Homo sapiens: one gene and its partners. The protein of the gene in region 1 interacts with the protein of each later gene in a biochemical or structural test. Each region holds a gene or a part of one and is shown in the gene's direction. Other genes may lie near its edges.

Region 1 (7,953 bases):
CCAAGAACTGTGTGGGTTTTAAATTTTGATACATTTTACCAAACTGTTAAAAAAGGTTGTGCCATTGTATGCTCCAGTCAGACGCATATGGGAGTGACTGTTCCTGGTCCCCAGTACTAGGCTTTGTCAGTCTGTTTAGTCCTCATGTTAGTCTCATTTTCATGAGAATTTCTTTACTTCAGACTTTGATAACCGTGAAGAAAGAACAAGATAGAAGGTGAGCTGTTTGGCTTAGTAATTTTCTACACCTACTAGAGCGGGACTGGGAAAAATATATTTGTAAATGCAGTTCTTGCTGTCACTGTCTCTCTGGGGTTTTACAATCCATATTCCTGCCAGCATCTAACGTCTTTTCAAATTCTTAATGTCTATAACAGGACATGATGACATTCATCGTTTTGACTTGTTGCAGCAAAAGATGGTTAGCAGGATTGGAATGTTGCTTTCATTCTAGACTTTTCCTTGAGAACTGCTAGCCCCGTATTGCTAGCCAGATCTCATGGATGATCTGACTTGGGTTTCATCTGTCCAGGTTGGCAGTGGAATCCCTCTGACCGGCCCTCCTTTGCTGAAATCCACCAAGCCTTTGAAACAATGTTCCAGGAATCCAGTATCTCAGACGGTAAAGTACCCATCCCGGGGTACCTGCAGTGGGGTGAAAGGGCAGCCATGTGGGACTGCAGCCTGGGTCATTCGGTTCACTTCCTGGTGAAAGTTCACAGACCAGCCTGTCCTGAGACCAGAAAGCTGGGCAGAGGTGTGGAGTATTGTGCTTTCTTGTCTGCTGCAGCCCTGCAGAGTTCTAAGAAATGCTAAGGGCTGTTTCTCCGGTATCCACGTGCCTTTTCTTTAGTTGTATGCAGATGAGCACTGTTACCTTACAAAGAAAGAGAACCACCACACCAAGCCAACACCAGTACTGATGGCTGCTGGATTTTTGTTTCTGTCCCTGTATGATTCTTAGAAGTGGAAAAGGAGCTGGGGAAACAAGGCGTCCGTGGGGCTGTGAGTACCTTGCTGCAGGCCCCAGAGCTGCCCACCAAGACGAGGACCTCCAGGAGAGCTGCAGAGCACAGAGACACCACTGACGTGCCTGAGATGCCTCACTCCAAGGGCCAGGGAGAGAGCGGTAAGTCCCCCGCTTCCCCCAACCCCACTGCTCTTCCCTTCCCTGCCAGAGGCTACATTCAGGCCATCATAGGCCAACGGGAAGCTGTGAATGGAGCCCGCACAGAAGGGCAGCCATGGCCTTTGTCAATGGTTCAGCTTCGGAAGGAGGAAGGTTCTCCTCTCCCCACCTGCCTCCTATCCCCTCCCTCTGAGAGTCCCCGAGGAGCATAGGCTCCAGCAGTGAGTTCAGTCCTGTAGGCAGAGGTGCTTCTGAAGCCCGCCAAGGAGCTAGCCCATCTCCCACCTATTACCCGCGGCATCTGTGGTTGCTGTCTCAGAGCAGATTCAACAATAGTAAGCACCAGGCTGCGTGACAAGCAGCTCACGGTGAAGGCACTGATGTGAGAAGCTCGCTGCAGCCAGGTGGAACCAGGACACGCACATGGACAGAACCCGTGTCCTGGTGGTCTCTGGGAAGAGCATCTTTCTGGTGCCATTGCCTAGGCGAGCAAGGGAGTTGGGATCAGCTCAGGAGGGGGTCTCAAGACACTAGCAAAAATAATAATGGCCAACATTTATGTAGTGTGCCTACTACAGGCCAGGCTCTGTTCTATGTTCATGGTTGACCCCCAGAACCAGCAGTCCAGGTTCTGCTGCAGACCAGCTGAACAAAAGCATTGAGGGGTGTATTAGTCTGTTTTCATGCTGCTAATAAAGGTATACCCAAGACTGGGTAATTTATAAAGGAAAGAGGTTTCACTGACTCACAGTTCCACATGGCTGGGGAGGCCTCACAATCATGGCTGAAGGTGAATGAGGAGCAAGGTCACATCTTACTTGGCGGCAGGCAAGAGAGCTTGTGCAGGGGAAGTCCGCTTTATAAAACCATCAGATCTCGTGAGACTTATTCACTACCACGAGAATGTGGGAGAAACCTCCCCATGATTCATTGATCTCCACCTGACCCCACCGTTGACACGTGGGGCTTATTACAATTCAAGGTGAGATTTGGGTGGGGACTCAGCCAACCCATATTGGAGGTGGGGGGTAGGCCAAGCATCTGGGTTCACAGAGGATCCTGGGGATGGCAATGGTGGACTCCATTCTAATGGACTGCAGACTGGGTACATGTGAAGGGACTGGACAAAGCCCTACTTCTTGAAGATTTATGGTGGGATGTTTACTGACAGCAGAATCTATAAACCTGAGTTTTATCACGTACTCTCATTAGTAAAAAAAAAACAAAAAAAAACAGAACATGCAGCCCATATATATGGTATATAAAGTACGTATGTCCACTACTGTAGGAGTAGAGTGCGTATGTTATGTACCAAAACGCACATTTAAAAGGCTTGCATGCTAAATAAGTCCAAATTTGCAATACTTCCCGCCCCGCTGGGCCATCTCACTCACCTACTTGGAGGTTATGGCGTATAGACTCTCCAGAATCTTCCACCCTTCCTCCTCTTATCGGTTTTCCTGATTTCAGGTGGCTGAGCAGTAGGGAGGAGAGGCCTCTGGGAACGCTGTGCTTATTAAGAACCCAGTGATCAGCAGTCATGTTCATTTACGCCCGTCAGTTTCATCTGAGGGGTATTTTGATAGTGATCTCTTGGTGAGCCGAGGGTGTCAATTAACTGCTCAGTGCTGAAACTGAGTGGTGCATAATTCATTGCAATTTCACTCTCCTGGCCTCCTTCCACTAGATTAAAGTTTTGGGAGGGCTTTGGTGTTCCCTGATTCAGATGTCCCGCGTGCTGCCTTGGGTTCTGATAAATGCATACTGGTACCTCTGTTGAGTTACAGGTGCCAACAGAAAACCTCTTCTTGCAAGCTGACCTCTGAGGGAGAATTCTGTTACTCACTAGCAGGAGCTTGGCAACACCAAAAAGATTTCCTTTTTTTTTTGAGATGGAGTCTCACTCTGTTGCCAGGCTGGAGTGCAATGGCATGATACCAGCTCACTGCAACCTCCACCTCCTGGGTTCAAGCGATTCTCCTGCCTCATCCTCCTGAGTAGCTGGGACTACAGGCGTGTGCCACCACACCCAGCTAATTTTTGCATTTTTTAGTAGAGACGGGGTTTCATCATGTTGGCCAGGATGGTCTCTATCTCTTGACCTCATGATCCGCCCACCTCAGCCTCCCAAAGTGCTGGGATGACAGGCTTGAGCCACCGCGCCTGGCTACCAGAAAGATTTCTTATGAGCTATGATTCATATTTAAAGAGTGCCCATTAAAAAACTGTTGGCCGGGCGTGGTGGCTCACACCTGTAATCCCAGCACTTTAGGAGGCCGAGGTCAGCGAATCACAAGGTCAGGCTCCCGTGGCACAAGCTGGGGGCTGCCCCCACCCCATGCTCCCCAGAGGAGCACCCAAGCGTCTGGGCTCAGACAGGCCTGGATCTGATAACCGGCTCTGATGCCACCATCCCTGAGGCCAGGCAAGTCCCAGCCGGGCTACAGCACTGTTGTGAGAATGCAGATGAGGTTGTAAAGGTGAAGCACGTGTCACGCTTCTCTCAATAAAGCCATCATTGCTGTTAGGATTGTCATTAGGAAAGGCTTTGGGCCGGGTGCAGTGGCTCATGCCTGTAATCCCAGCACTTTGGGAGGCCAAGGCGGGTGGATCACCTGAGGTCAGGAGTTTGAGACCAGCCTAACCAACATGGTGAAACCCCGTCTCTACTAAAAATACAAAATTAGCCAGGCGTGGTAGCGGGTGCCTATAGTCCTAGCTACTTGGGAGGCTGAGGCAAGAGAACCATTTGAACCTGGGAGGCGGAGGTTGCAGTGAGCTGAGATCGTGCCACTGCACTCCAGCGTAGGCAACAAGCGAGACTCCAACTCAAAAAAAAAAAAAAACCACACACACGCTTTGGTCTCTTTCCCTGAAGATGGGAACAAAAAGCTGGACGGCCCTGGCCTCTTCATCCCTGCACTGGTTTACTTGAAGGCAGCAGCCCCCCACCCACCCACATCACTCTCTAGTGAGTATAAAAACGATGACAAGGCCAAGCAAAGGGTCAAAACCTGTGGCTCTCCTGCCAGCCAGCTAGCCGAGAGGCCTATGAGGAGCTCTGGGAATAAGGGGCTGTGTCCCACAGTGGGGAAGGGACAATGGGCCATTATGCACAGGAGATAAGAAGGGATGACCTTTGACAATTTTTTTGTTTGTTTGTTTGTTTGTTTTGAGATGGAGTCTCACTCTGTCTCCTGGGCTGGAGTGCAGCAGTGGCACTCTGCCTCCCGGGTTCAAGCGATTCTCCTCTGTCAGCCTCTAGAGTTGTCTGGAGTTGTCAGCTCTTCCCCTTGCGTTTCAGATCCTCTGGACCATGAGCCTGCCGTGTCTCCATTGCTCCCTCGAAAAGAGCGAGGTCCCCCGGAGGGCGGCCTGAATGAAGATGAGCGCCTTCTCCCCAAAGACAAAAAGACCAACTTGTTCAGCGCCTTGATCAAGAAGAAGAAGAAGACAGCCCCAACCCCTCCCAAACGCAGCAGCTCCTTCCGGGAGATGGACGGCCAGCCGGAGCGCAGAGGGGCCGGCGAGGAAGAGGGCCGAGACATCAGCAACGGGGCACTGGCTTTCACCCCCTTGGACACAGCTGACCCAGCCAAGTCCCCAAAGCCCAGCAATGGGGCTGGGGTCCCCAATGGAGCCCTCCGGGAGTCCGGGGGCTCAGGCTTCCGGTCTCCCCACCTGTGGAAGAAGTCCAGCACGCTGACCAGCAGCCGCCTAGCCACCGGCGAGGAGGAGGGCGGTGGCAGCTCCAGCAAGCGCTTCCTGCGCTCTTGCTCCGCCTCCTGCGTTCCCCATGGGGCCAAGGACACGGAGTGGAGGTCAGTCACGCTGCCTCGGGACTTGCAGTCCACGGGAAGACAGTTTGACTCGTCCACATTTGGAGGGCACAAAAGTGAGAAGCCGGCTCTGCCTCGGAAGAGGGCAGGGGAGAACAGGTCTGACCAGGTGACCCGAGGCACAGTAACGCCTCCCCCCAGGCTGGTGAAAAAGAATGAGGAAGCTGCTGATGAGGTCTTCAAAGACATCATGGAGTCCAGCCCGGGCTCCAGCCCGCCCAACCTGACTCCAAAACCCCTCCGGCGGCAGGTCACCGTGGCCCCTGCCTCGGGCCTCCCCCACAAGGAAGAAGCTGGAAAGGGCAGTGCCTTAGGGACCCCTGCTGCAGCTGAGCCAGTGACCCCCACCAGCAAAGCAGGCTCAGGTGCACCAGGGGGCACCAGCAAGGGCCCCGCCGAGGAGTCCAGAGTGAGGAGGCACAAGCACTCCTCTGAGTCGCCAGGGAGGGACAAGGGGAAATTGTCCAGGCTCAAACCTGCCCCGCCGCCCCCACCAGCAGCCTCTGCAGGGAAGGCTGGAGGAAAGCCCTCGCAGAGCCCGAGCCAGGAGGCGGCCGGGGAGGCAGTCCTGGGCGCAAAGACAAAAGCCACGAGTCTGGTTGATGCTGTGAACAGTGACGCTGCCAAGCCCAGCCAGCCGGGAGAGGGCCTCAAAAAGCCCGTGCTCCCGGCCACTCCAAAGCCACAGTCCGCCAAGCCGTCGGGGACCCCCATCAGCCCAGCCCCCGTTCCCTCCACGTTGCCATCAGCATCCTCGGCCCTGGCAGGGGACCAGCCGTCTTCCACCGCCTTCATCCCTCTCATATCAACCCGAGTGTCTCTTCGGAAAACCCGCCAGCCTCCAGAGCGGATCGCCAGCGGCGCCATCACCAAGGGCGTGGTCCTGGACAGCACCGAGGCGCTGTGCCTCGCCATCTCTAGGAACTCCGAGCAGATGGCCAGCCACAGCGCAGTGCTGGAGGCCGGCAAAAACCTCTACACGTTCTGCGTGAGCTATGTGGATTCCATCCAGCAAATGAGGAACAAGTTTGCCTTCCGAGAGGCCATCAACAAACTGGAGAATAATCTCCGGGAGCTTCAGATCTGCCCGGCGACAGCAGGCAGTGGTCCAGCGGCCACTCAGGACTTCAGCAAGCTCCTCAGTTCGGTGAAGGAAATCAGTGACATAGTGCAGAGGTAGCAGCAGTCAGGGGTCAGGTGTCAGGCCCGTCGGAGCTGCCTGCAGCACATGCGGGCTCGCCCATACCCGTGACAGTGGCTGACAAGGGACTAGTGAGTCAGCACCTTGGCCCAGGAGCTCTGCGCCAGGCAGAGCTGAGGGCCCTGTGGAGTCCAGCTCTACTACCTACGTTTGCACCGCCTGCCCTCCCGCACCTTCCTCCTCCCCGCTCCGTCTCTGTCCTCGAATTTTATCTGTGGAGTTCCTGCTCCGTGGACTGCAGTCGGCATGCCAGGACCCGCCAGCCCCGCTCCCACCTAGTGCCCCAGACTGAGCTCTCCAGGCCAGGTGGGAACGGCTGATGTGGACTGTCTTTTTCATTTTTTTCTCTCTGGAGCCCCTCCTCCCCCGGCTGGGCCTCCTTCTTCCACTTCTCCAAGAATGGAAGCCTGAACTGAGGCCTTGTGTGTCAGGCCCTCTGCCTGCACTCCCTGGCCTTGCCCGTCGTGTGCTGAAGACATGTTTCAAGAACCGCATTTCGGGAAGGGCATGCACGGGCATGCACACGGCTGGTCACTCTGCCCTCTGCTGCTGCCCGGGGTGGGGTGCACTCGCCATTTCCTCACGTGCAGGACAGCTCTTGATTTGGGTGGAAAACAGGGTGCTAAAGCCAACCAGCCTTTGGGTCCTGGGCAGGTGGGAGCTGAAAAGGATCGAGGCATGGGGCATGTCCTTTCCATCTGTCCACATCCCCAGAGCCCAGCTCTTGCTCTCTTGTGACGTGCACTGTGAATCCTGGCAAGAAAGCTTGAGTCTCAAGGGTGGCAGGTCACTGTCACTGCCGACATCCCTCCCCCAGCAGAATGGAGGCAGGGGACAAGGGAGGCAGTGGCTAGTGGGGTGAACAGCTGGTGCCAAATAGCCCCAGACTGGGCCCAGGCAGGTCTGCAAGGGCCCAGAGTGAACCGTCCTTTCACACATCTGGGTGCCCTGAAAGGGCCCTTCCCCTCCCCCACTCCTCTAAGACAAAGTAGATTCTTACAAGGCCCTTTCCTTTGGAACAAGACAGCCTTCACTTTTCTGAGTTCTTGAAGCATTTCAAAGCCCTGCCTCTGTGTAGCCGCCCTGAGAGAGAATAGAGCTGCCACTGGGCACCTGCGCACAGGTGGGAGGAAAGGGCCTGGCCAGTCCTGGTCCTGGCTGCACTCTTGAACTGGGCGAATGTCTTATTTAATTACCGTGAGTGACATAGCCTCATGTTCTGTGGGGGTCATCAGGGAGGGTTAGGAAAACCACAAACGGAGCCCCTGAAAGCCTCACGTATTTCACAGAGCACGCCTGCCATCTTCTCCCCGAGGCTGCCCCAGGCCGGAGCCCAGATACGGGGGCTGTGACTCTGGGCAGGGACCCGGGGTCTCCTGGACCTTGACAGAGCAGCTAACTCCGAGAGCAGTGGGCAGGTGGCCGCCCCTGAGGCTTCACGCCGGGAGAAGCCACCTTCCCACCCCTTCATACCGCCTCGTGCCAGCAGCCTCGCACAGGCCCTAGCTTTACGCTCATCACCTAAACTTGTACTTTATTTTTCTGATAGAAATGGTTTCCTCTGGATCGTTTTATGCGGTTCTTACAGCACATCACCTCTTTGCCCCCGACGGCTGTGACGCAGCCGGAGGGAGGCACTAGTCACCGACAGCGGCCTTGAAGACAGAGCAAAGCGCCCACCCAGGTCCCCCGACTGCCTGTCTCCATGAGGTACTGGTCCCTTCCTTTTGTTAACGTGATGTGCCACTATATTTTACACGTATCTCTTGGTATGCATCTTTTAT
Region 2 (7,953 bases), on another chromosome or scaffold:
TTTTTTTTTTTTTTTTTTTTTTGCAAATGCAGTGCCCCCTGAAGAGTCATTTCCTTTAAATCTCCCCTGCAAGGACAGCTGCTTTCATACGCCCTTCAAGTCCAGCTAGACATCCCCCCTCACTGTCCCCCACCCTGCTTGGCTACATCTGAATCTTACTTCTGACTTTCTGTCTGCTGAACCATATTGCATTTGTCCCTGTTCACAGCCTTCCAGAGCTTTGCTGGCCTCTGATTCTAAAGTACTTTGTCCAGTGTCCAGAATTTTGCATTCAGACATTGTACTGGTAACCTCAGACTTCAATATTTTCCTATTAGTTACTGTAAATATAGACTTGACCTAGAAATAGAAGTCCTAATACTGCCTTTTATCAAGGAAACTTAAAACATTTGAAAAACAACAATGAGGCTTTCATTTTTCTGATTTGAAAATATGGCTTCAGGATCCCAATTTCATAAAAGCTACAACTGTCCTATAATAAATCCAAATTTCCCGAGGGAAAATTTTACAATGTATGTTTTAAACAAAACAACTTGAATGTTTTAGTATATAAATAATACTATTTTTCTATCCATGGCTATTATAAAATGTATAGAAAATATCCCTATTACAAATTTGTTATGGAATCAGACTGTTTAAAACTAATGTTGAGTTGATGATGATTAGTAGCCGATTATAATGTAAGACACTTATGAAGTTGTTTTTCTTGCTGAAACCAGAAGAAAGTAAAGGTCGTGAACTGGAAAGAGATTAAATAATTGAAATGAAGTCTACAATGGCAGCATTTCTTTTAATGTTCCTAAGTAAACCTAAAAGGTGACTGGAAATCACTAGTTACGTTACACTAGTTATGTTACCCTACAACTTGAGTACCTGGGTAAGGGAGAGAATATTCTCTTAGAATCACTCTTGATATAGATATAGGTTTGTTTACAGAGACTTCCTACCCTCTGTTCTATATTAGATAACATTATTAGTATTTTTTAAATAAGCCTGATTTCAGTAGCCTTTTTATGAAAAAACTGCCACAATCAAAAATAAGAATGTACCCATAGTTTTATTAAGAAGTTATAAATACATAATTCCTTGTCTTTAAGATATCTGTGTTGAAAGCAAAAGTTCTAATTAATACTGTATGAATTTTTGTATATAAAGTAGAATTGATGAGGAAGTTTAAAATATCCTGATATTTGGGATTAGAAAGTAAAATATTTAGGAAATTATTTAAATTCATATTTCTTGACATTATTGCATTCATTCCAGCATTGAGTTTTCTAATAAAAGTAAGATAAATAGCAATTCTTAATTATCATGCTGTCCTTTAAAGCTTATTTTGGCTATCTTCCAGCTGATTTTAATGTACAGCATGCTATAATTAAATAATAGCTAAAGTTGGAATTGGTTCTATTCATCTTAAAGACTAATCATGTTTAATTATTTTAAATTGCATATAGTAATTAGATTTCAGAAACCATGATTTTGTAATATGCCTGTACTGTTTCTAACATTTTCTATTTTAAGTCATTTATAATATTTTTAAAGGTCTCAGTTATGTCTAACTACATGGATAGCATAATGAAATGAGTTGCACTTGTATTTTATAAAGAAGACTTGTGATATATGATTGCATTAGATAATTTTCTGGAAGTTCCTCAAACTAACAATTTAATTATGGATATGCCTGTTAAATCCTAAACTGCCACTGTCACGTGGAAAAATACAGATAAATATGTTTTCAAAATATGTTTTTCTGTATTATTTCTGAAAAACTCAAGACATGGACATGCAGTTAAAAGGAAACACTTCTGCAACTGTTGAGTTCTGAGTATTGGCAAATAAGAACTCACGTTTCAGCTTAAGTTCAATTAAGATGATATTTGCTGAATAAATGACGGGGAACCAGCAAAGACGGGTTTTTACTTTGGTGTTTGCAGCATAACAGATCCATATGGAACTCCACCACACTTCACTGCACCTTGGTCTTCAAAACGGAAATATACTAGTTTACCAAGTAGGAATTTTGGCCAAAAAAGCAGTGGTTTCCTCTTCCCTATACAGGTGAGGTAGACATAAATTCAGCATTAAATTCTGTACCTTAGAGAAGCATTATTTGAGCAAAAATTCAGAAAGCTTTCACTTTCCTGAATCCAATCAAGGGTCTTACTTTCAAAGATTTTCCCACCTCAAAAAAACAAAAACACAATAAAAAAGAAAGAAAACAAAAAGGCCTGGTAATGTTCTCATTATATTTTCTAATTTCTCTTTATATATTCATATTATAATTTAGGGAAACTTATTTTTAACAAAGAACATTATCTGAAAGTTTCGGTGATATTTTGTTTTTTTCTGTTCATTTATACGGTTGCCTACTTATTAAATTTTTGATTTTTTAAATTTAATCAGAAATTCAGTTTTTCTCTCTTCCCTCTGAGATGTTTTCCCAGTGGTTAAAGTAAATTACAAGTCTTATAATGAATTATATCCTCTGCTTTGAATGGGAGAGTTCATCCAATCCATTGTTAGAAATAGTTCTTCTTTTCAGGTTCCTTGTCCTAGTACATTTTTTCTGGAATAGTTGAATTTGAGGACAGGGGCAACATAAACCCGTCAGGCTCCAAATCTTCTGATGTTCTATTCAATTCAGCATCCCTCAGAGACTAATATAGCTGCAAGGATTAGCCGCAAGGAGTCCAACAAACTATAGCAAAAACAGGATTCTAGGCCGGGCGCGGTGGCTCACGCCTGTAATCCCAGCACTTTGGGAGGCCGAGGCGGGCGGATCACGAGGTCAGGAGATCGAGACCATCCCGGCTAAAACGGTGAAACCCCGTCTCTACTAAAAAATACAAAAAATTAGCCGGGCGTAGTGGCGGGCGCCTGTAGTCCCAGCTACTCGGGAGGCTGAGGCAGGAGAATGGCGTGAACCCGGGAGGAGGAGCTTGCAGTGAGCCGAGATCCCGCCACTGCACTCCAGCCTGGGCGACAGAGCGAGACTCCGTCTCAAAAAAAAAAAAAAAAAAAAAAAAAAAAAAAAAAAAAAATAGGATTCTAGCCAAGAGCTGTGCCACTCGTGAAGATCCTCTAAGAGTACAAGCATGGGATGCCATGAAGAATGGCAAGTGTTTTAAATGCACAGAAAGAAAAACATATTCAAATGAGATTTTGGCTATGTTGGAGAAAATTTATTAGTATAAATATTCATTCTAGTCTCCTCTAAACAGAAGTCCCTGTACTTACTTCTCGCTGAGGACAGCCAGCTTCTCAGAGGCACTGAGTCCTCTGAAGAGGTAACACCACAGAGGCAGCAGCCTGGCTGGTGGAAATGTGCTTCATTAAGCCTTCGGCTGCATGGAGAATCCTCTTCCACCTATTGAGAGGAGTCAGCGACTTCTGCCTCACTGGGTCTTTTTAATACCAGATATTTATACTTCATACAGGTTGCCTACACTTTATGCTACTAAACAACAAAAGTTTAAGAGAGCAACGCTTGGCTGCTTAAAAATGAGCCTTTTTGGTAGATTATCAAGATGCCTTCACACCCAATTATTTCAGTTCTCTGTGCTAAAGTTAACGAGGGAAAGGAGATTAGATAACAATAACCTCAGCTGTTGTTGTGCTATAACTGTGTCATCTGGTGAAGGGTTTGAGCACTTTCCAAAACGCGTGCATTTAACCCGTCAGACGTATTCTTGCACTATAGTAAATACTACATATTTTAGTTTGCTCAATATCTCAAAATCTAGGTTTCAAAATTTTTATAGCATAGTATTACTAGTAGTTAAGATGAAAATTGTATAACTGCTTGGTTGCTCTGCTACAGTGTGAATAGACCGGTGTTGTTGGATGGACCTAGAGCGCCAGGCTTAAACCAGTTTACGCAAAGGGAGGTCAGGAGAGTGGTGAATGGCAAGAGAATGGAAAAAGGTACAGGTTACTTCTGCAGAATAAAAGTTACAGGGAAAACTTGACTCGCTTTAGAATGGCAGCCGGAACAGAGAGGCCCTCAGCAAACAGGTCAACATACTGCATATTCAGTCAGTATTTGCTGAATGAATGAACGGCTTACAGCAATCAGATCTTCCCCGGTGTTGTGCTAATGCCAACACATGATTAGAAAGTGCTCTTTGAATCTACAGATAAAGTGACAATTCAGACATTTTTCTGATTTTTTAAAAATCAGAAAACAAAGGAGAAGAAAAAACACATGAAAATTTAAAAAGGCTATTATTAAACATATATATATATATAGTCTTCCTGGTGAGAAGCATTATACTTTAACAATTATATAAGACAGAAATATTACCAGAAGCATAGATAAAGCTCAAATGCAACACATCATATGGTGAATAATTCAGAAGATAAGAAAAACTGATTTCTAATCTCAATTTTTTTAAAGCCTCTTGGTACAGTCACATTCATCAAGAAATATAATCAACCTAAAGAGTTAAAATTTTCTTTTGTAAAATAAAAAAGAATAAGAAAGAAAAGTTTAAATCCAGAGTTATAAAATTGAAGATCTTCATTTTAAGGCTTTAGAATATAGTTGAACAGAGAGTTCAAGACAGAAAGAGGTATCAGTCTGGGAAGACCTTTTCAAGTTAAAAAAAACCATAGAAGCTGCAAGACCTTACACAGTCAATCAAAATATCTGCTTCTGATTTAACTCAAGAAAACAATAGAAACCTATTAACTAGTATTCAGTCAACTACGCAAAAGATTATTCAAAAAATGTTCAATTTGTTCACTCCAAAAGATATTGATAATAATAATAATTTATATAGATTTCACTCTGTACTTGCTACCATCCCAAGAGTTTTATGCATATTAACTTTTAATGAAAAATCTGGAAAATCACAAAATCTATAAGTATAATACCAAATACTAAAAAGTAGGGACTTTTAAGGACGTTTACATTGGAATTTCTCAGAAACATTTTCTGCAATCTTAAATTATTTCCCAAAGAGGGATTTAACATTGAATCGCTTTGTCTTAGATGCGCCGATACCACTTTACATGTTGTATTATTTTTATATCATGTTAATGAAGTGTTTTGACGTGTCCAGTCTTTCCATGTGAAAGTGACCTCCACGAGAGAGCAGTCTTGTTTACGTGTTTTTACCCACCATCTTGCCATGTCCACTACCAAGAGTGAACGAAGGATGGCTGAGTAACTAGGCCAAGTCGGTTATTGTAACAAATAAAATTCACACCCAAGGAAAGGGACCTGCTGAAAGCAAGGTAACCTGCGTGTGGTTCCATGTGACTTTCATCAGGAGAAAACTGATCTGGTCTACATATCTTTAAATGTTTGTTTTGTTATGGGTTTTTTGTTTGTTTGTTTTTGGTCAGTATGCTTTTTGGGTAAAACACTAAGCTAAGTATCAAAGCAATCCTTTTTAAGTCATCGAGACTTTTTCAACGGAGGAAACATGACGCAACCAAAAATGATTTGGCTCATTTAAACCACTTGTAGAATTTTTCCTCCGAATTTAACCTTCTGAGCAACTTAACTACATATGAGTTATGTCTGACAGTTAAGAAAATAATAAAAATATGAGAAGGCACACTTATCTTCTTTGTCAGAGAAACCATATCTGTTTTGGGAGAAGGGCTGTCTTAGGGCAGTAACTCAGATGACTGATAATATATCCTGAATTCTTTCACACTCACTTTATTTAGAAACATAACTTTTTATATGATATGTGTTCTGAAATCCGATTATATCACTCACTGACTTCCTTTCCACCATAGATTTAATTTTACAGGACTAATATAACTCATTTATATAATGATTAATATGGCTTTTTTAATTAAAAAAATCTTCCTTCTAAAGTGTGCCAAGGATTTTGACTACATTTTCAATTAATTTTTAGATTTATTGGCAGAAGAGCAGAATTACCATCACCCTTATGTTGTAAAAGTAAATGACAATCAAAGCCATAAATAATATAGTTTAGTTTGAAAAACCACCTTCCTGTTGACCCGAAGTCCCAAATGTCCTGTCAGTGCTTTATATTGACGGTTATCTGGTAAAATGATTGGATCTATGTATTATTATGTGGCATAATATTACATCATAATGATTTCGAACCCTAAGCTTGTGCTTCCTTTGAAGATCGAATTAGGAAAACATACCCTTAAAACGGTGCCTCACTTTTTTTTGGCTCTGGTATTTAATTTTGCAACTGTCAGGAACAAAGAGATTATGATCAGAAAATTATGTTTCCTGGGGAATGTTCTGTTAATGAATTGCCTCATTCCCAGGCTCCTCAGTCATGGTATTGCATTCTGCCTTTAGCCCAGCCTGTGAGAAGAGGTGCTGGGTTTGCATGGTGCAGAAAAGGCCTGAGAGGAGGAGAGAACAGGAGCGTAAGGATAGGACCCAGAAGGACTCTGGCCCTCTAAGTATTTGTTACCAATGGGATCACTGAACCACTAGAGCTTTTGAGTTCAGTAGGAATTAGGAAAAGTGTTGCCTTGAAATTTAAATGTTTCTGCTTCCAACCAAAAGCAAAGCATTGGAGAAATCTGCATGCACTCTCGCTAACCCCTCAGAGAGTGAAAGAGTATTTTATCTGGTCAACAAAACAGAATGGCCTCTTGTTGATTGACATGGAGAAATATCACCCGTTTAAAGGTCAGATTATTAATTTGTCAGTGCATTCTCTTGGGAAATAAAATCAGAATTTCATCTGGCAAGTGTCATGACAGGTGACACATGATTTTTAAGACTATCACCAAAAAACTATATCTGCCCAATATACAGATCAGTACCATGAGTTCCTAAGTGCCAAGTGGCCCACAGTATCTGGAGTTTCCCCTCCTGGTAGATGGGCTTGAGCAGGCAATGATGAGTTCTCTGCTCTCCTCTTCCAGACCTTGAAGACTGTTGTCCCATTTGTTAGTATGTTAGTGTAAGTTAGCTGATTGTATTCTTTCTAATTTGTTTGGTATTGAAAAGATGGCCTTGATAGGGAACGTGGAGAGCGAGAAAGACCTAAGTTCTGGGTACAACTTAACAAGTGGTCAGACCCAACTGTGGATGTCGAAGTTGTAACTGTATATTAAAAAAATCATACTTGCATTTTCATATAATTTACTCATTCATTTATTATACATCCATCAAGGACCGGAGGAAAAGATGAGAGAATAAGCCAGGAAGCCATTGAAAGAGCTTACAATTTAGTGCAGGAAGACAGGAACGCTAGTTACTGTAATTTAAGATAGAAGGTGATGGAGTGCTATAAGGCAGATATAATCAATGCATTTATTTATTCCTTCAAAAGACATGCGCAGAAGTAACTTATACAATAAAGAAACTCTTTGATCGTCTTAAGCAATGGAGTTCCAGAAGATGATAATAAATTGCTCAGAGAATTGAAGTTTGTTAGAGGATCGGGAAAGATGGATTAGAGAAAATGGTATTTTAATTGGGGCTCGAACAAGGTGGGATTTTGACAATAGTGTGGAAAAGCAAGCTTTGTAGCATCAAGAATTGTTTTATACCACTCACATGTATTTGGCACCCCCTCAGTGCTTTCATGTAAATTGTTGAGTCTGGCTCAACAGCCCTGGGAGGTATGCACTATCATCACTGTTTCACATGAGAAAAGAAGAAACTGAGGCTCAGGGAAGTGCTCATTGGGTTTTACCTGTTACGAGTCAGTGGCCAACTTTGAGATGAACTTTTTGAAAAGAACTTTGTTCTTGACAGTTGCTAAAGTGCTGAGATTAAAGCACATGGAAAGATTAAGAAATGTGTTTACAACTCAAGAGCATCACACACAGAGAGAGAGAGAGAGAGAGAGAGATGATTCAGTTAAAAAATGGGCAAAGGGCCAGCATAGATAGTTTTCCAAAGAAGACATACAAATGGCAAACAGACGTATGGAAACGTGCTCAACATCACTAAGCATCATGGAAAGGCAAGTCAAAACCACAGTGAGACACCAC
Region 3 (7,953 bases), on another chromosome or scaffold:
TGCGTTATGCATCCAGTTTCAAGAAATCTTTTTCTGTCCCAAGGTTGTGAAAATAATAAGTGTTACTTTGTTTTTGACAGACGATTGTACATATTTATGAGATACAAGATGATATTTCTTTTTTTTTTTTTTTTTTTTTGAGACGGAGTCTCACTCTGTCGCCCAGGCTGGAGTGCAGTGGCGCGATCTTGGCTCACTGCAAGCTCCGCCTCCTGGGTTCACGCCATTCTCCTGTCTCAGCCTGCCACCACGCCCAGCTAATTTTTTGTATTTTTTAGTAGAGACAGGGTTTCACCATGTTAGCCAGGATGGTCTCGATCTCCTGACCTGGTGATCCACCCGCCTTGGCCTCCCAAAGTGCTGGGATTACAGGCGTGAGCCACTCCACCTGGCCCAAGATGATATTTCAATACATATATACATTGTATAATGAATGATCAAATCAGGGTAATCAGCATATCCATCAGTTCACTTAAACACTTGTCATTTCTCTTTGTGATGAGAACATTCAAAATACTCGCTTCTGGCTATTTTGAAGTATACATTACATTAGTGTTTACTGTAGTCACCCTACTGTGAAATAGAACCCTAGAACTTATTCCTCCTATCTAACTGAAACTTTGTGCCTGTTGACCAACCTCTCTCCTTCCTGCCGCCCCCTGCAACAGCTGCATTCTCCTCAGTCTCTGGTTACCACTGTTCTATTTGTTCCTTGTATGAGATGAACTTTTTTTTTTTTGTTTTTTTTTTTGAGACACAGTCTCACTCTGTCATGAGGCTGGAGTACAGTGGCACGATCTCGGCTCACTGCGATCTCTGTCTTCCGGGTTGAAGCCATTTACCTGCCTCAGCCTCCCGAGTAGCTGGGACTACAGGCGTGTGCCACCACACCCTGCTAATATTTGTATTTTTAGTAGGGACGGGGTTTCGCATGTTGGCCGGGATGGTCTTGATCTCCTGACCTGGTGATCTGCCCGCCTCGGCCTCCCAAAGTGCTGGGATCACAGGCATGAGCCACCGCGCCCCGCCAAGATCAACTTTTTTAGATTCTACATATGAGTGAGATCATGCAGTATTTGTCTGCAAACACATTTATAATGTATAATGGGGTATATAAAAATAAGTAAAACTTGGCCCCTACACTGAAGGAATATAAAGCAGGAGAACAGAGAGGCACAATAAGAGAATGGCCTTGGCTTTTCCTAAAGTCTTTTTGATACGACTAGCTAGATAGAAGATGGGGAGAGAGATGCACCTTATTTCTCTAGTGTTTATACTGATAAGCATTTGTATTTTTCAGTAATGGCAATGCAGATGCAGCTTGAAGCAAATGCAGATACTTCAGTGGAAGAAGAAAGCTTTGGCCCACAACCCATTTCACGGTTAGAGGTATGTGGTTAGTTGCTAATTTTGGAATTATATACTAGATTCTTCTACCTAGTGGAAGGTATTACAACCTTTACATAAAATATAGGTTTACTACCAAGGTCAAGACCCAAATTAGACTTTTCAGAAGTGTTGTCAATAATCCTGTGGAAAGGCTGCAGATCATTGCTAAATATGTCTGGCAGGGCCTCTTCCTTTGTCAACAATTCTCTTCCTACTTTATCATTTTTATTTCTGAGAGTTGGACTGTCAGAAACTAAGGCCTAGGATCCCATGGTGGAATCTCTGTGCTGTTTTTGTTTGTTTGTTTGTTTGTTTTTGATGGAGTTTCGCTCTTGTTGCCCAGGCTGGAGTGCAATGGCGTGATCTCGGCTCACCGCAACCTCTGCGTCCCAGGTTCAAGCGATTCTCCTGCCTCAGCCTCCCAAGTAGCTGGAATTACAGGCATGAGCCACCACACCCAGCTAATTTTATATTTTTAGTAGAGACAGGGTTTCTCCATGTTGGTCAGGCTAGTCTCGAACTCCTGACCTCAGGTGATCCACCCTCTTTGGCCTCCCAAAGTGCTGGGATTACAGGCATGGGCCACTGCGCCCAGCCTGTGCTGTTTTTTTGTTTGTTTTTTAAGAAATGGGTCTTAACTGTGTTGACCATGTTGATCTTGAACTCCTGGCCTCAAGCAGTCCACCTGCCTTGGCGTCCCAAACTGCTAGGATTACAGGCATGAGCCACCATGCCTGGCCAAAGCATCCTGTGCTATTTGCACTAAGTATGAAAGTGCTGTTCTGGGAATTATAGCGGCCTGGACCAGTTATGCAAGGAAGACAGGGAAGCACCTTCTCTCCATTAACCTAGATTTGTGCTGTCAGCTGTCATTGGCAGAGAGAAGGGTGTGGTGGTGTTATGGTATAAGAGACAAGCTCCAATTCAGGATTCTGCACAAGAACATTAAGCACCAGAGCTGAGGCCTTACACTATTTCTGCCCATTGTATAGAGACTGCCCTGTGAGTGCAGCTGATTTGGGCTAAGTAGGAGGAAAGCAGAGAAAGACTTGATTCTTCTGTCTCTTTTTTTCATATTTCCCATCTCTGACTAATCTTCAAGACTCTAGAAGTTAGGAGTGCAAAAGGCTAATAAAAAAAAAAGACTCTAGAAGTTACTTAAATGGATTTGTGATAAACATTTGAAAGTTCAGAGTCATAACTTCTGGTGCCATGAGCATCCTTATACTCAAACATGCATATTGCTTAAATATTAATAGCAGACATGGCTTATGTTGGCAAACTAATCTCTCCCCTCTTCTAAATTCTCCCAACCCCTGAATGCACCCACATTCACCTACTAACTCATGTTTTCCCAGAAGTCATGGTTTTGGTGGCTAATGAAACCAAAGCTGACTTGAATATAGGAAGAAAGAGGTGTCTTTGGGTGGTTTGTTTTGAGAAGAGGTATAAAAGTCCCTGACAAAAAGTAGTTTTCCTCACTGTTAATGTCAGTTGTTAGAGCAGAGCTTTCTGGTCATTGTTCAACAAAAAGTATTGACAGGCCAAGATAGTGCTCTTTATATTCTGAGCAGCCTTATCTATTTACCCTACCATAGTGTAAAAATACAGTTTTTTATGTGTGCTTGATGTGGAAAGTGTTGAGCAACACTGTCTTAAAGTGGTCTTGTAGGGCCCAAGGTCTCAGAGATCATTTAGGGTCACAAAAAAAGGTTGGGAGTTACTTTTTAATTCCAATTGCTAATAGGAGTTCTTTTTAATGTACATGGCTTAGTGCTAGTTTAAAATTATTGATTTTGATAATGAAAAGGTTGTTAATTTGTTATTAAGTACCTCATATATAGGGCTCATTTTTCAGCTTTTGCATATAATAACAGTAGGCTCTCTGTATCTCCGGATTCTGTATCAGCAAATTCAACAAACTACGTATCAAAAATTCAATCAACTACATATCAAAAAAAAGTATACAGGAGGATGTACATAGGTTATATGCAGGTAATACGCCATTTTATATAAGGGACTTGAGCATTGTTGGATTTTGTTATCTGCTGGGGGTCCTGGAACCAACTTCCCATCTCCCCCCGCCCCCCCAAGGATTTCAAGGGACAGTTGTATTACAAGTCTTCAAGCACCTCTGTGAAGTATGTAGGACACATAACATCTGTGTTAGATTAGAGAACTAAAGCTTAAATTTATCCATGGTTTTCTTCATTTGCAGCAGTGTGGCATAAATGCCAACGATGTGAAGAAATTGGAAGAAGCTGGATTCCATACTGTGGAGGCTGTTGCCTATGCGCCAAAGAAGGAGCTAATAAATATTAAGGGAATTAGTGAAGCCAAAGCTGATAAAATTCTGGTAAGTACTGCTTACTTAACCTAGGGAGGCATTAGTGGGAATAGTACAAAAGGGAATGTAGTGAAAGACTTCTTCCTTCTATCTCTTATTCTTCGGTCATCTCATTATCCTTTCCAGGGGTGACTGTTACCTGTTTCTTTTCTTCTTTTCTTTTCTTTTCTTTTTTTTTTCTTTCTTTTTTTTTTTTTTTGGAGACGGGTTCTCGCTCTGTCACACAGGGTGGAGTGCAGTGGTGCCATCTCAGCTCACTGCAACCTTCACCTCCCAAGCTCAAGCGATCCTCTCACCTCAGCCTCCCAAGTAGCTGGGACTACACTACAGGCACATGCCACCATGCCGGGGTAGTCTCGAACTCCTGAGCTCAGGCGATTCACCTACCTCAGCCTCCCAAAGTGCTGGATTATAGGTGTGAGCTACTGTGCCTGGCCTATTTATTTTTCTAGCTTCATATAGTTCTTTAACATACATACTTCCCCATGGTTACATTTTGTTTTATGAACCTATTTCTTCAGTGTTTATATAGTTACACAGTTTTATTGCCTTTACCCTTGAAGTTTTATGTAGTATAAAGCAGATTTTTTTTTTTTTTTTTTTTTTTTTTGAGACGGAGTCTCGCTCTGTTGCCAGGCTGGAGTGCAATAGCGTGATCTTGGTCTACTGCACCCTCCGCCTCTCAGGTTCAAGTGATTCTCCTGCCTCAGCCTCCCGAGTAGTTGGGACTACAGGTATGTGCCACCACACCCAGCTAATTTTTGTATTTTTATTAGAGACAGGGTTTCACCACGTTGGCCAGGATGGTCTCGATCTCCTGACCTTGTGATCTGCCCACCTCAGCCTCCTAAAGTGCTGGGATTACAGGTGTGAGCCACCGCGCCCCACCGCAAATATTTATTTATAAAATTGTATTTTCACGTATCGATTACTGTTAGCGTTAGATAAATTTATTGGATTACTCAAATGAATATTTGCTGAAGTGGTTGCTTAATTGGAAATAAGGGTTCTGAGTCCCTAACAGTATTTTTGTTAAAAGATTGTCATATTGACTAAGCCAGTAGGGGTCCCTAAAGTCTTTCTGTTTTCGCTTTTTGGGTATCAGTTTTTGTGAATGAACAAATGCTGACAGGATCTTTTCTTTTTGCCTTGCGAGATCTTGGTTTCAGAAATCAAGTCACTTCTCTGTTTCTATGAACACAACAATGCAAACCTAGAATACATGATTTGAGATGCAATATGGTATAGACTTACGTGTCTTTACTTTTCAATATTTTATGTTCTTTGTTTCTGGCCAGTAAAGATTATGATTGTATTGTTTGTTTTCTGTTTTTTTTTGAGGCAGAGTGTCGCTGTGTCACCCAGGCTGGAGCACAATGGTGCAATTTTGGCTCTGCTCACTGCAACCTCTGCCTTCCGGGTTCAAGTGATTGTCGTGCCTCAGCCTCCCAAGTAGCTGGGATTACAGGCTCCCACCACCACACGTGGCTAATTTTTGTATTTTCAGTTGAGACGGGGTTTCACCATGTTGCCCAGGCTGGTCTCAAACTCCTGGCCTCAAGCAATCTGCCCACCTCAGCCTCCCAAAGTGCTGAAATTACAGGCACTAGCCACTGTGCCCACCTTTTTTTTTTTTTTTTAAAGAAAAAAAAGAAAAGTCTCACTCTGTTGCCCAGGCTGGAGTGCAGTGGCATGATCAAAGCTCACTGCAGCTTCAGCTTCAAACTCCTGGGCTCAAGGAATTCTCAGCCTGCTGAGTAGCTGGGACTATAGGCACATGCCACTAGCCTGACCATTTCTACCAGTTTTGTCTTTGCTAATACATTCTCCTGTTTTTCACCAAAGGAAGTAGTCTATATTCCTTGAGCTCCCATGGCTTGTTAGTACTTCTCATATTACCCATCACATCTACTTGTACTATAGTTATTTTGTATAGTTTATCTTTCTGATTAAGTTATAAGCTCTGTGGAGGCAGGAATCAGCTCTTCTTTTTCTCCATATCCTTCAGAGTCCCTGGGACTATGTTTCATACGAAGTAAGTGTCTAGTACATGTTTGTTGCACTGAAATGACAGTGAGTATATGAATTGGCCAGGCTGGTCTCAAAATCCTGGCCTCAGGTAATCCGCCCATCTCAGTATCCCAAAGTGCTGGGATTACAGGCGTGAGCCACTGCACCTGGCCGTGCAATGAATTTTTAAATGAAATATTAAGTATATAGAAAAGTTTAGAGAATAAACTTTCATTGATTTTTCAGCTATTTGTTGATTTTTTTTCTTCATGGGAAATTTAAACATTATGAAAGTTTAATCTTTTTACTTTCTATGGGTCTATTTAGATTTTCTTCTTGAGTGAGTTTTGGTAGTTTATCTTTCTAAGAATTTGCTTATTTCATCTAAGTTACCTAACTTGTTGACATAGAGATGCTCACAGGGTTTCCTTATACTACTTTTTATTTACATAAAGTCAGTAGTAATGTCCCCTCTTTCATTCTTGATTTTAGTAATTTGAGTCTTTTCTCTTTTTTTCTCGGGCAATGCAGCTAAAAGTTTGTCAATTTTGTTGATATTTTCAAAGAACCAGCTTTTGGTTTCATTGATTTTTCTCTATTATTCTGCCCTCTACTTAATAGTTTCTACCCTAACCTGTATTATTTCCATCTTTCTGCTTGCTTTGTTTTGTTTGCTTTTCTTTGGAAGGTTAGGTTATGATTTATCTTTTTTATTTTTAGAGGCAGAGTCTTGTTCTGTCACTTACGTTGGAGTGCAGTGGTGTGATCATAGCTCACTGCAGCCTCCAACTCCTGGCTCAAACAAACCTTCTGCCTCAGCCTCCCAGGTAACTAGGACCACAGGCACGCCCCACCATGCCCTGCTATTTATTTTATTTTATTTTATTTTTGAGACGGAGTCTCCCTCTGTGCCCAGGCTGGAGTGCAGTGGCGTGATCTCTGCTCACTGCAACCTCTGCCTCTTGGGTTCAAGCGATTCTCCTGCCTCAGCCTCCTGAGTGGCTGGGATTACAGGCACGTGCCGCCATGCCCAGCTAATTTTTAGTAGAGACAGGGTTTCACCGTGTTAGCCAGGATGGTCTTGATCTCCTGACCTCATGATCTGCCTGCCTCAGCCTCCCAAAGTGCTGGGATTACAGTCGTGAGCCACCGCGCCAGGCCTTTTTTTTTTTTTTTTCTGATGCAGTCTCACTCTCTTGCCCAGGCTGGAGTGCGGTGGTGTGATCTCGGCTCACTGCAACCTCCGCCGCCCGGGTTCAAGCAGTTCTCCTGTTTCAGCCTCCTGAGTAGTTGGGACTACAGGCGCACGCCACCACGCCCAGCTATTTTTTGTATTTTTAGTAGAAATGGGGTTTCACCATATTGGGCAGGCTGGTCTTGAACTCCTGACTTCGTGATCTGCCCACCTCACCCTACCAAAGTGCTGGGATTCAGGCATGAGCCACCATGCCCAGCCATGCCCTACTAATTTTTTTTTTTTTTTTTGAGATGGAATCTCGCTGTGTCTCTCAGGCTGGAGTGCAGTGGTGCAAATTCAGCTCACTGCAACCTCCGCCTCCCAGATTCAAGTGATTCTTCCACCTCAGCCTCCCGAGTAGCTGGGACTACAGGCGCGTGCCACCACGCCCGGCTAATTTTTGTATTTTTAGTAGAGAGGAAGTTTCACCATGTTGGTCAGGCTGGTCTTGAACTCCTGACCTTGTGATCTGCCCACCTCAGCCTCCCAAAGTTCTGAGATTACAGAGGTGAGCCACCACACCCAGCCACCCTGCTAATTTTAAAACATTTTTAGAGCCAGGGTGCTGCTTTGTTACTCAGGCTGGTCTCAAACTCCTGGCTTCCAGCAGTCCTCCCACCTCAGCCTCCCAAAGTGCTGGGATTACAGGTGTGATTCACCACACCCAGCCTTCTTTTCTAATATAGCTGTTTATAGCTATGAATTTCTCTCTAAGCACTGCTTTTCTTGGAGCCCATACGTTTTGGTATATCTTCGTTTTCATTCATTGCAAAAACATTTTCTGATTTCCCTTGTCATTTCTTCTTTGACTTGTTGCTTATTTAGGAGTGTGTTGCTTTATTTTTGCATATTTGTGAATGCACTTACTTTTCAATTTTAGAATCAACCCATAGTGCTATTACAGAACACTTATCTGTAATTACAAAATAGAATGTGAATGTTCTCAGCCAGACAATATGAAAGAAAAGGT
Region 4 (7,953 bases), on another chromosome or scaffold:
GAAATCAGGGAAGTCACTAGAAGGCCCAAGGAGGGGTCTTCTGAGAAGTCCCGAGACAACTGGCCAAACACAAATGTTCTGAGGCAGGCTAGGCACAGGGGCTCACGCCTGTAATCCCAGCACTTTGGGAGGCCAAGATAGGAGGATCACGAGGTCAAGAGATTGAGACCATCCTGGCCAACATAGTGAAACCCCGTCTCTACTAAAAAATACAAAAATTAGCTGGGCATGGTGGTGCGTGAGTGTTCCCAGCTACTCAGGAGGCTGAGGCAGGAGAATCGGTTGAACCCAGGAGGTGGAGGTTGCAATGAGCCAAGATCGCACCATTGCACTCCAGCCTTGCGTACCACTTAAGCCTCAGAAATCTCAGTGTTAAGAAACATCTGACAACAGATTAGCCGAAGTAGGTGCAGCCCAGTCCCAGGCATCCAAGAGATGCTCCCACAACATTTCCTCCTAGAATGGGCGAGAGCAAGGGCTCTGCCTAAAGCGTGCTGTTGCATGGGAAGAACAGTGAACATTTCCTCCTAGAGTGAGGAAAGCAAGGGCTCTGCCTAAAGCATGCTGTCTCACATGGGAAGAACAGTGAGAAGACAGCATTGCGGCGTGAGTCCACTTTGCCAGTACCAGGTGCACACACAAATACCACAGAGAACTTCTGAGAGGCTGTGCCCCCAGATCCCAATGTTGGTTTTCTCTGGGGAATAGATGACGGGCTATTTTCTGTTTCCTCTTTAGACTAGTCTGTCTTTTTCAACGTTTCTACAAAGAGCAGAAATCCATAAACAACCCACCAGAACGTGTCAATCCATGTAACTTTCCAAGACCCATAGGGGATCCCCAAGTCCAAGTGCATCCTCATGGGAATGGCTTGGGAAATGCCAGACACTTTCCAGCCTGGGTCTCACAGTGGACCTGTCTGCCTCTGCAGGACCAGAAAATCTACATCTACACCCTCAAGGGCATGTGCCCCTTAAACACACCCCAACAGGCCTTGGATACTCCAGCTGTCGTCACCTGCTTCTTGGCCGTGCCTGTTATTAAAAAGGTGAGGTCGGGGCAAAGGCAGGTATGCAGGTCTCTGATGCACTTCCACGCCTAGGAGGCGTCTCCTAGCTATGTCAGGGTGGCGCCTGCAGAGCCACACCTAGGACCACCTGGCCTAGGACGTAGACTTAGAGACGGTGGGAGGAAAGATATCAGACCTGGTCCGTCATTAGTGCCTTCCGGTTTGCAAAAACCTAAGTCAAGTCCCCAGCCAGACTGCAGGCCGAATGAAAAACCCCCTTTCACATGCAAATGCCCTGACTCAGGTGGAAGGACTGTTGGTACAAATGGCACGGTGAGCAGTCATGCGTGTGCCCTTCCCCTATCCGGAGCCTCTTCCCCACCTGCCCAGGCCAGAGCCACCTCACAGCCACTTGATCACCAGGTCCTGGAGGTCCTGATCTCCCTCCCTCCATCTCTGCCTCCCGCCAAGTACTCGCCGTCTTACACCAGACGCAGTTTCTCTTTGTGCAGCATAGCCCTGCAGACTCAGCTCTTTAACCTCCTAGCCCTGGCCTTTCTAAATGAGACCCCAAGGGGCACTCTCCCCATTAAAGGCCCAGCCAGCTGTGCTGCACCTTGGGATTAGCCCCAGCCTCTATGAGGCTGGCCTCCAGTCCCTGCTGGGCCCGGCACCCTCCCCACAAAGCACCCCACTCTGTGCTGGGCCCTTGACATCCCAGCCTCCTCCAGGAACAGCCCCTCCACGCACCTCTTCCCAGACGGCCTCCGATTCAGTTCTCAAGACCCGGGGCCTTGTCCCCTCCTTTGAGAAGCTGCCCCTCAGTGGGGGGCAGCTCCCTGGCTTTTCCGGGCTCCTCCGCCCACAGGATTCAGGCACGGCTCAGCCAGCTCTGGTTTCATCCACCCTGAGGGGCCTGTCTGTGCATAGGCGCCCTCACTAAATGCACAAGAAGCCTTTACTGGTGTTGCTTTGTTAAAATGTGACTGTCATCATCCAATTCCAGTTTGCCCATCTACAAAACAGGTATAAGAAGAGACAGAAGGCCTAGCATACCCAAAGGTCTAGGCCGGTGTGCTTGGTAAATGAGTATTATTATTACTTCTGGATGGTCGCAAAATACATGAACTCTTCTCTTCACCCTTCTTCAGTTTCATTTAAAAAAAAAAAAAACAGGTATGAAATGAACCTTAGAGTCATTTATGACCATGGCCCCACAGCGAGGCTACGCAGCTTGGGACCAGGCCCGTACCAGAGCGCAGGAGAACACGACACAAAGTGTTATTGAGGCCACCGCTGGCGAGAGCCCCCAGCCAGGGCACCACCTCCTGCACGACCAGAGGGAATAAAGCCTGCTCTGTGCAGGGCCTCCTGGGCAGGGTGTCTGCCCCCTCCAAGGCCGCCAGCGCGAAGCCTGCATTCTTGCACGCGCACCCACGTTCACACCCAGCCGGGACGTGGCACTCACCGCCCTGGCCGGGGCCTGAGCCAGGACTGCAGATAGAGACCTGGAGCCTGTTTGCCTTGGCTGCCTTCTTTCCCTAAAGTCCTGGGGATGGATTTCGATACGCTTTCTTAGAGCATGTTGTCCTGGACAGTGAGCTACGGGTCTCCACTCCATTGCCCTGCACAGCCAGCCTCCTGAGCTCCCCCAGCTCCCCACAAGGAGGCTTTCTGCCCTGCCCCCTCACTGGCATGAGGCCCAGCTCCCTGCTCTGCCCTGACTCCAGCTTTGTTCTGCAGACCTCTTCCCACCCCCACCACAGCCGACGCGGTGTCTAGGCTGCGGAGCTGCACTCTGTTCCTGGCTCTGCCCTGGGAGGTGCCCCGGGGCGGTCTGGGGTGGGCCCAGCATTCAGCAAGGTCCCTGCAACTTTGGCCTCTGCCCGGTGACCTCTGGCGGGTGTAGAAGAGCTCATGCTTCATTGAGGGGGTGGGGGGCACCCTGAGGACCCTGTCAACGTCAGCTGAACCACAGGCATCTCGATAGATGTAAGCTGGGATGAGGGCTCAGCAGGCTGAGACAGGCCTCCAGAAGAGGGTTGAGTAGGAAGCGATTTCTTCCAGAATTAGTTCAGCAAACACATGTCATCCACTTGGAGCAGGAGCCAGGTGGAGTCACAGGGCCACCAAGATGAAGGAGACTGAGCCCTTCCCTGTGCCAGGCTAGTGCCACGGGGATGCTGGTGGGCTGGGAGCCCATCCTTATGGAACACTCTGCCTGGTGGGGGGGGTGGCAGGCAGGGGGCAGTGCACAGATGCTTGCCATGCCCCCACTGCTGTCATGTTAAGCAGCACCGAGAAAAGGGCGGGGGCACCAGGTCCTGCCTCTGAAGGAGGCCTTGGTGGCCTCAAGGAGAAGGCAGCTCCCTGCTGCTCGCCCTGCAAGAAGCTGGCAGAAGCAGAGGCAGCCCATGTGGTCCAGGTGACACGCAGCCTTACTTGGTGCCACAGGCCCTGCCTCTGGGTGGCACATTCCTTTCTTTGCTGCAGGGATGGTAGATATGGCTCTGCGGAGTCAGAGCTGCACTTCTTTAGGAGTAGCCCCGGCCTTTCTAAGAGATTTGCTGCCCTGAGGCGCACTGGTGGAAAGTGACTGCCCGCCTGGTGTGGGTGCAGATGAGTCCAGTGCCTACTCTGTGTCTCTCTTGGAATGTGTGAAATGGAAGGATGTGACACATCCCTGTCTCCTTCCTTCAGAATTCCTACCTGGTCTTAGCGGGCCTCGCCGATGGGCTTGTGGCTGTGTTTCCCGTGGTGCGGGGCACCCCAAAGGACAGCTGCTCCTACCTGTGCTCACACACAGCCAACAGGTCCAAGTTCAGCATCGCGGATGAAGACGCACGGCAGAACCCCTACCCAGTGAAGGCCATGGAGGTGGTCAACAGCGGCTCTGAGGTCTGGTACAGCAATGGGCCGGGCCTCCTTGTCATCGACTGTGCCTCCCTGGAGATCTGCAGGCGGCTGGAGCCCTACATGGCCCCCTCCATGGTTACGTCAGTCGTGTGCAGCTCTGAGGGCAGAGGGGAGGAGGTCGTCTGGTGCCTGGATGACAAGGCCAACTCCTTGGTGATGTACCACTCCACCACCTACCAGCTGTGTGCCCGGTACTTCTGCGGGGTCCCCAGCCCCCTCAGGGACATGTTTCCCGTGCGGCCCTTGGACACGGAACCCCCGGCAGCCAGCCACACGGCCAACCCAAAGGTGCCTGAGGGGGACTCCATCGCGGACGTGAGCATCATGTACAGTGAGGAGCTGGGCACGCAGATCCTGATCCACCAGGAATCACTCACTGACTACTGCTCCATGTCCTCCTACTCCTCATCCCCACCCCGCCAGGCTGCCAGGTCCCCCTCAAGCCTCCCCAGCTCCCCAGCAAGTTCTTCCAGTGTGCCTTTCTCCACCGACTGCGAGGACTCAGACATGCTACATACGCCCGGTGCTGCCTCCGACAGGTCTGAGCATGACCTGACCCCCATGGACGGGGAGACCTTCAGCCAGCACCTGCAGGCCGTGAAGATCCTCGCCGTCAGAGACCTCATTTGGGTCCCCAGGTACGTTTCCCGAGGTGAGGGCACCATCCAGGGCACGCCCACTGCTCCTGCTCTGGGGACAGAGCAAGGGGAAGCCCCCTGGCTTCCTTACAGGTCATGTGGGGAGGCAGGTGCTGTTCTTCCAAGAGGGTTGGTTTCCTCCATTGGGAATGGAAGCGATCGCTTTAGCAAATCTAAGAGTGGCCGCACAAAAGCTTATTGCCTGCCAGAGAGCTTAAGGTGCCACACAAGGAAAGCCACAGTCAACTGTGACTCAGTTTCCACTGAGAAAATTCTCCTCTGCTTTGAAGTCTGTCCCCTCCCCATAACTTAATCCCTTAGCAGAAACTGCATGTCTGTTGCCTCCCTCCCGCACCTTTCTGCACACCGGCTTCACTCCCCGGAGAGCACGGCTACCGACAAATCGCTTCCCCTTCTGGGTTTTGGTTGCTTAGGCGCGGTGGAGATGTTATCGTCATTGGCCTGGAGAAGGATTCTGGCGCCCAGCGGGGCCGAGTCATTGCCGTCTTAAAAGCCCGAGAGCTGACTCCGCATGGGTAAGACTGAGTGGCAGCTCCTTTAGGACCCAGGCAGCAGCATGAGCACAGAAGGCCCTGCAGCCAGGTCCTGCACAGTGGCTTTGCTGCCCTTCCATTCTCCCAAATAGCATAGCCACTAACGTGGCTGTAAGGCAAAGTGGAAACAAGATGGGGCCCCTCAGACAGCTCCTAGGGGCTCCGCACTGGCCATGGCTGCCTGTTTCTGGAGTACCCAGTGCACCTGTAGATCAAGTACCCTACCTAGTACCCTACCTAACGAATGTCTCCAGGGCCAGAGTTCAGCTGCAATCGACATGCAGATGCATCCAGGTCATTGATTCACTGTTCTTCCTGCCAAGCAGGAAACCCTACCCGAGGTGTCCACCAGCCCACACAGCACCCTATGGGGACAGATGACACAGGCACACCTTGTCATCTCCAAGCCTGGGGTCTCAGCTCCTGCCCTTCCTGGGCTGAGACATAGCTCAGTACCTGTCTGTGGGTGGGGACCCCCAGGATTATGCCAGTCTCCTCTGTGAAGGTATGCTGGGCAGGGTGGCCTGTCCGGGACATGGTCTACATGGTTGCAGTGATGTGAGGCTGGCGCCAGCTGCAGCTCCCCACAGTGTTTACACCCCGCACTTTGACTACCGAGCCCCACACGGTAAATCTCCCCTACGAAAAGTCCTCAGTTCAAATGTGTGTGTGTGTGTGTGTGTGTGTGTGTGTGTGTGTGTGTGTACTTTGGAGCTCTTCCATTTCACACTAGGCCTGTTTCCCTGCAGCATGAGTTATCCCCCATCCCTGGGCAAGTGGGTTTTTATTTCATCTGGAGCATAAGAGGGTGGAGAAACACCAGTCAGCTTGCTTCTCCCAAAGCAGGACAATGACAAGGACATCCTTGGCAGTCGCACTCCCTTGCCTGCCAGCTTTGAACTTTTGCAGTGAGTCCTGGGCCAGTGACCCTTACTCTGTAAGTGGTTCTGGAAGCAAGATCTGGATCTGCTCCTGAGCTCTGGCAGAGCCTGTGGGTAGAAGCCTTGAACTGATGGAGTTCCCAGCTTGCAGGTCGGGCTTCTGGAGGAAATGGGTGTGCAGCACCCAGGTTAGGACCTTGGCATACCTGCCATTAATGTCCTAACGTTTAGCTGTTGTTTTTCTCCTATTCATCCCTAAAGCCAGATTTTACCTCTTTCTCGCTAGAGGGAGGCTCCTCCCCTAAGGGGAGGTCCTGGCAAGGCCACGCGGAGTGAGAGGTCCCTGGACATCCCAGTTTGCAGGAGCACCTCAGTGCCACGCAGGCCGCACACACGGGACACAGAGGGAGGAAAGGCAATTAGTATGTGCTTGGGGTGGGGCACCACCAGGGCAGGGAGGCCACACTGTGGCCCAAAAGGAAACCTGTAGCACACACCCACCGATCCTGCAAAACTGTCCACAGTTTCAAAAAATGTATATAGTGATGACTTTGGGGCAGTAGGTTTTCCATTTAATATATGATCCTGTATTTCCTAAGCCTGTAGAAACAGAATGAGAGAAGAATCTTACTGAGCTTAGTGGCAAGGGAGTTGAGTTAAACTCGGTCATGAGCCATTCACAAGCAGAAATTTGGGTCAGTGGTGTTTTCTGGACGCTTTGGGAGCTGAGTCAAGGATGCATGATCTGATTGCCTCTGTGGCCTTCCAGGGAGTCTGACTCTTACAGACAAAGCCCATGGACGCGAACTCATGCCCACAGCCCGTCTTTGGACTTTATAAAGCCTAAGCCCACAGGCTGGCCACTGGGGAGAAGTGGTGCATCTCAGCACACCCCAGAGAGGGCTGGCAAGCAGACACACTCCCCTGCCCTTAGCCAGCTCCGCCTTCCTCAGAAGGCACAGGGGGAGGGTCCCAACCCCACCCGAGTGGGAACCCCTGTGAGTTTCCTCAGACCCCCTTCTCTCTGCAGGGTGCTGGTGGATGCTGCCGTGGTGGCAAAGGACACTGTTGTGTGCACCTTTGAAAATGAAAACACAGAGTGGTGCCTGGCCGTCTGGAGGGGCTGGGGCGCCAGGGAGTTCGACATTTTCTACCAGTCCTACGAGGAGCTGGGCCGGCTGGAGGCTTGCACTCGCAAGAGAAGGTAATTCCTGTGGAATGACTGTCACACATCAGAGCTGGCTGGCCCGGGGCTGCAGCCTGACCCCTCTGCCATCGGCCTCTAGTTCTCCAAGGACCTAGAAGACAGATGGAGTTCTCCCCTGAACTCCTTGCTGCTAAGAAGTGCTGAGAAGTTACTCGCCTGGCGGTGGCTCCAGGGTTCTCTGGTTCTCTGGAGCAGAGTTCTCTGAATACCCCATCCCCCAACTGCTGATTTTACAGCCCCAGGGAAGACAGTGGTATCAGGCTGGGAGCGGCCTCCTCTGGCCTCCCCCATCAGTTTGCAGGAGCAGGGGTGCAGGATCCTGTTCTGAGCTGGGTCAAACAAAGCAGGGCCGGGCCTTCCTGCCATCCCCAGGTCTCAGATGGAATTACACTAGAGGCCCTCCGCTGGGAAGCACTTGAGGTAGGGCAGGAGGGGGGCTGTGACCCCTGCCCTTTCCCCGCCAGAGACCTCAGGCTCTCAGCACATTCCACAGGCTCCTGAGTCCCCGAGGCCTGGGCCAGCTTGGGCAAGCCAAGATCAGATGTCTCTGTGTTCGGGAAGGTCTCCGTGTGGGAAAGCCCTTGGGGGATCCCGGGTGAGGAGTGTTGCCCCATCCAGAGAATGAATGAGTTCCTTTAAGTGCCACCGCCAGCAAGCCCAGAGGCACACAGTCCGAGTGCACCCGCTTAGCCTTTACATTCCTCTCCACCGACAAAAGGAAGGGGAAACTCAATCAGCAGGACTTCAG

What was found.
Region 2: the proteins of ABL1 (region 1) and SORBS2 form a complex in vitro, tested with the Homo sapiens proteins (one study listed by BioGRID).
Region 3: the proteins of ABL1 (region 1) and RAD51 form a complex in vitro, tested with the Homo sapiens proteins (2 studies listed by BioGRID).
Region 4: the proteins of ABL1 (region 1) and LRRK1 form a complex in vitro, tested with the Homo sapiens proteins (2 studies listed by BioGRID and IntAct, with this or other methods).

The regions. Positions count from the first base shown.
Region 1 is NC_000009.12:130,879,536-130,887,488, forward strand, and holds part of ABL1 (tyrosine-protein kinase ABL1), read left to right. Parts: intron 1-532; coding exon 533-622; intron 623-964; coding exon 965-1,129; intron 1,130-4,433; coding exon 4,434-6,148; 3' UTR 6,149-7,953. UniProt on the Homo sapiens protein: Non-receptor tyrosine-protein kinase that plays a role in many key processes linked to cell growth and survival such as cytoskeleton remodeling in response to extracellular stimuli, cell motility and adhesion, receptor endocytosis, autophagy, DNA damage response and apoptosis.
Region 2 is NC_000004.12:185,801,525-185,809,477, reverse strand, and holds part of SORBS2 (sorbin and SH3 domain-containing protein 2), read left to right. Parts: intron 1-7,953. UniProt on the Homo sapiens protein: Adapter protein that plays a role in the assembling of signaling complexes, being a link between ABL kinases and actin cytoskeleton. Can form complex with ABL1 and CBL, thus promoting ubiquitination and degradation of ABL1.
Region 3 is NC_000015.10:40,697,457-40,705,409, forward strand, and holds part of RAD51 (DNA repair protein RAD51 homolog 1), read left to right. Parts: intron 1-1,300; coding exon of another isoform or gene 1,301-1,302; coding exon 1,303-1,389; intron 1,390-3,607; coding exon 3,608-3,745; intron 3,746-4,349; coding exon of another isoform or gene 4,350-4,470; intron 4,471-7,953.
Region 4 is NC_000015.10:101,061,643-101,069,595, forward strand, and holds part of LRRK1 (leucine-rich repeat serine/threonine-protein kinase 1), read left to right. Parts: intron 1-931; coding exon 932-1,048; intron 1,049-1,759; exon of another isoform or gene 1,760-3,709; coding exon 3,710-4,563; intron 4,564-4,997; coding exon 4,998-5,099; intron 5,100-7,028; coding exon 7,029-7,206; 3' UTR 7,207-7,953.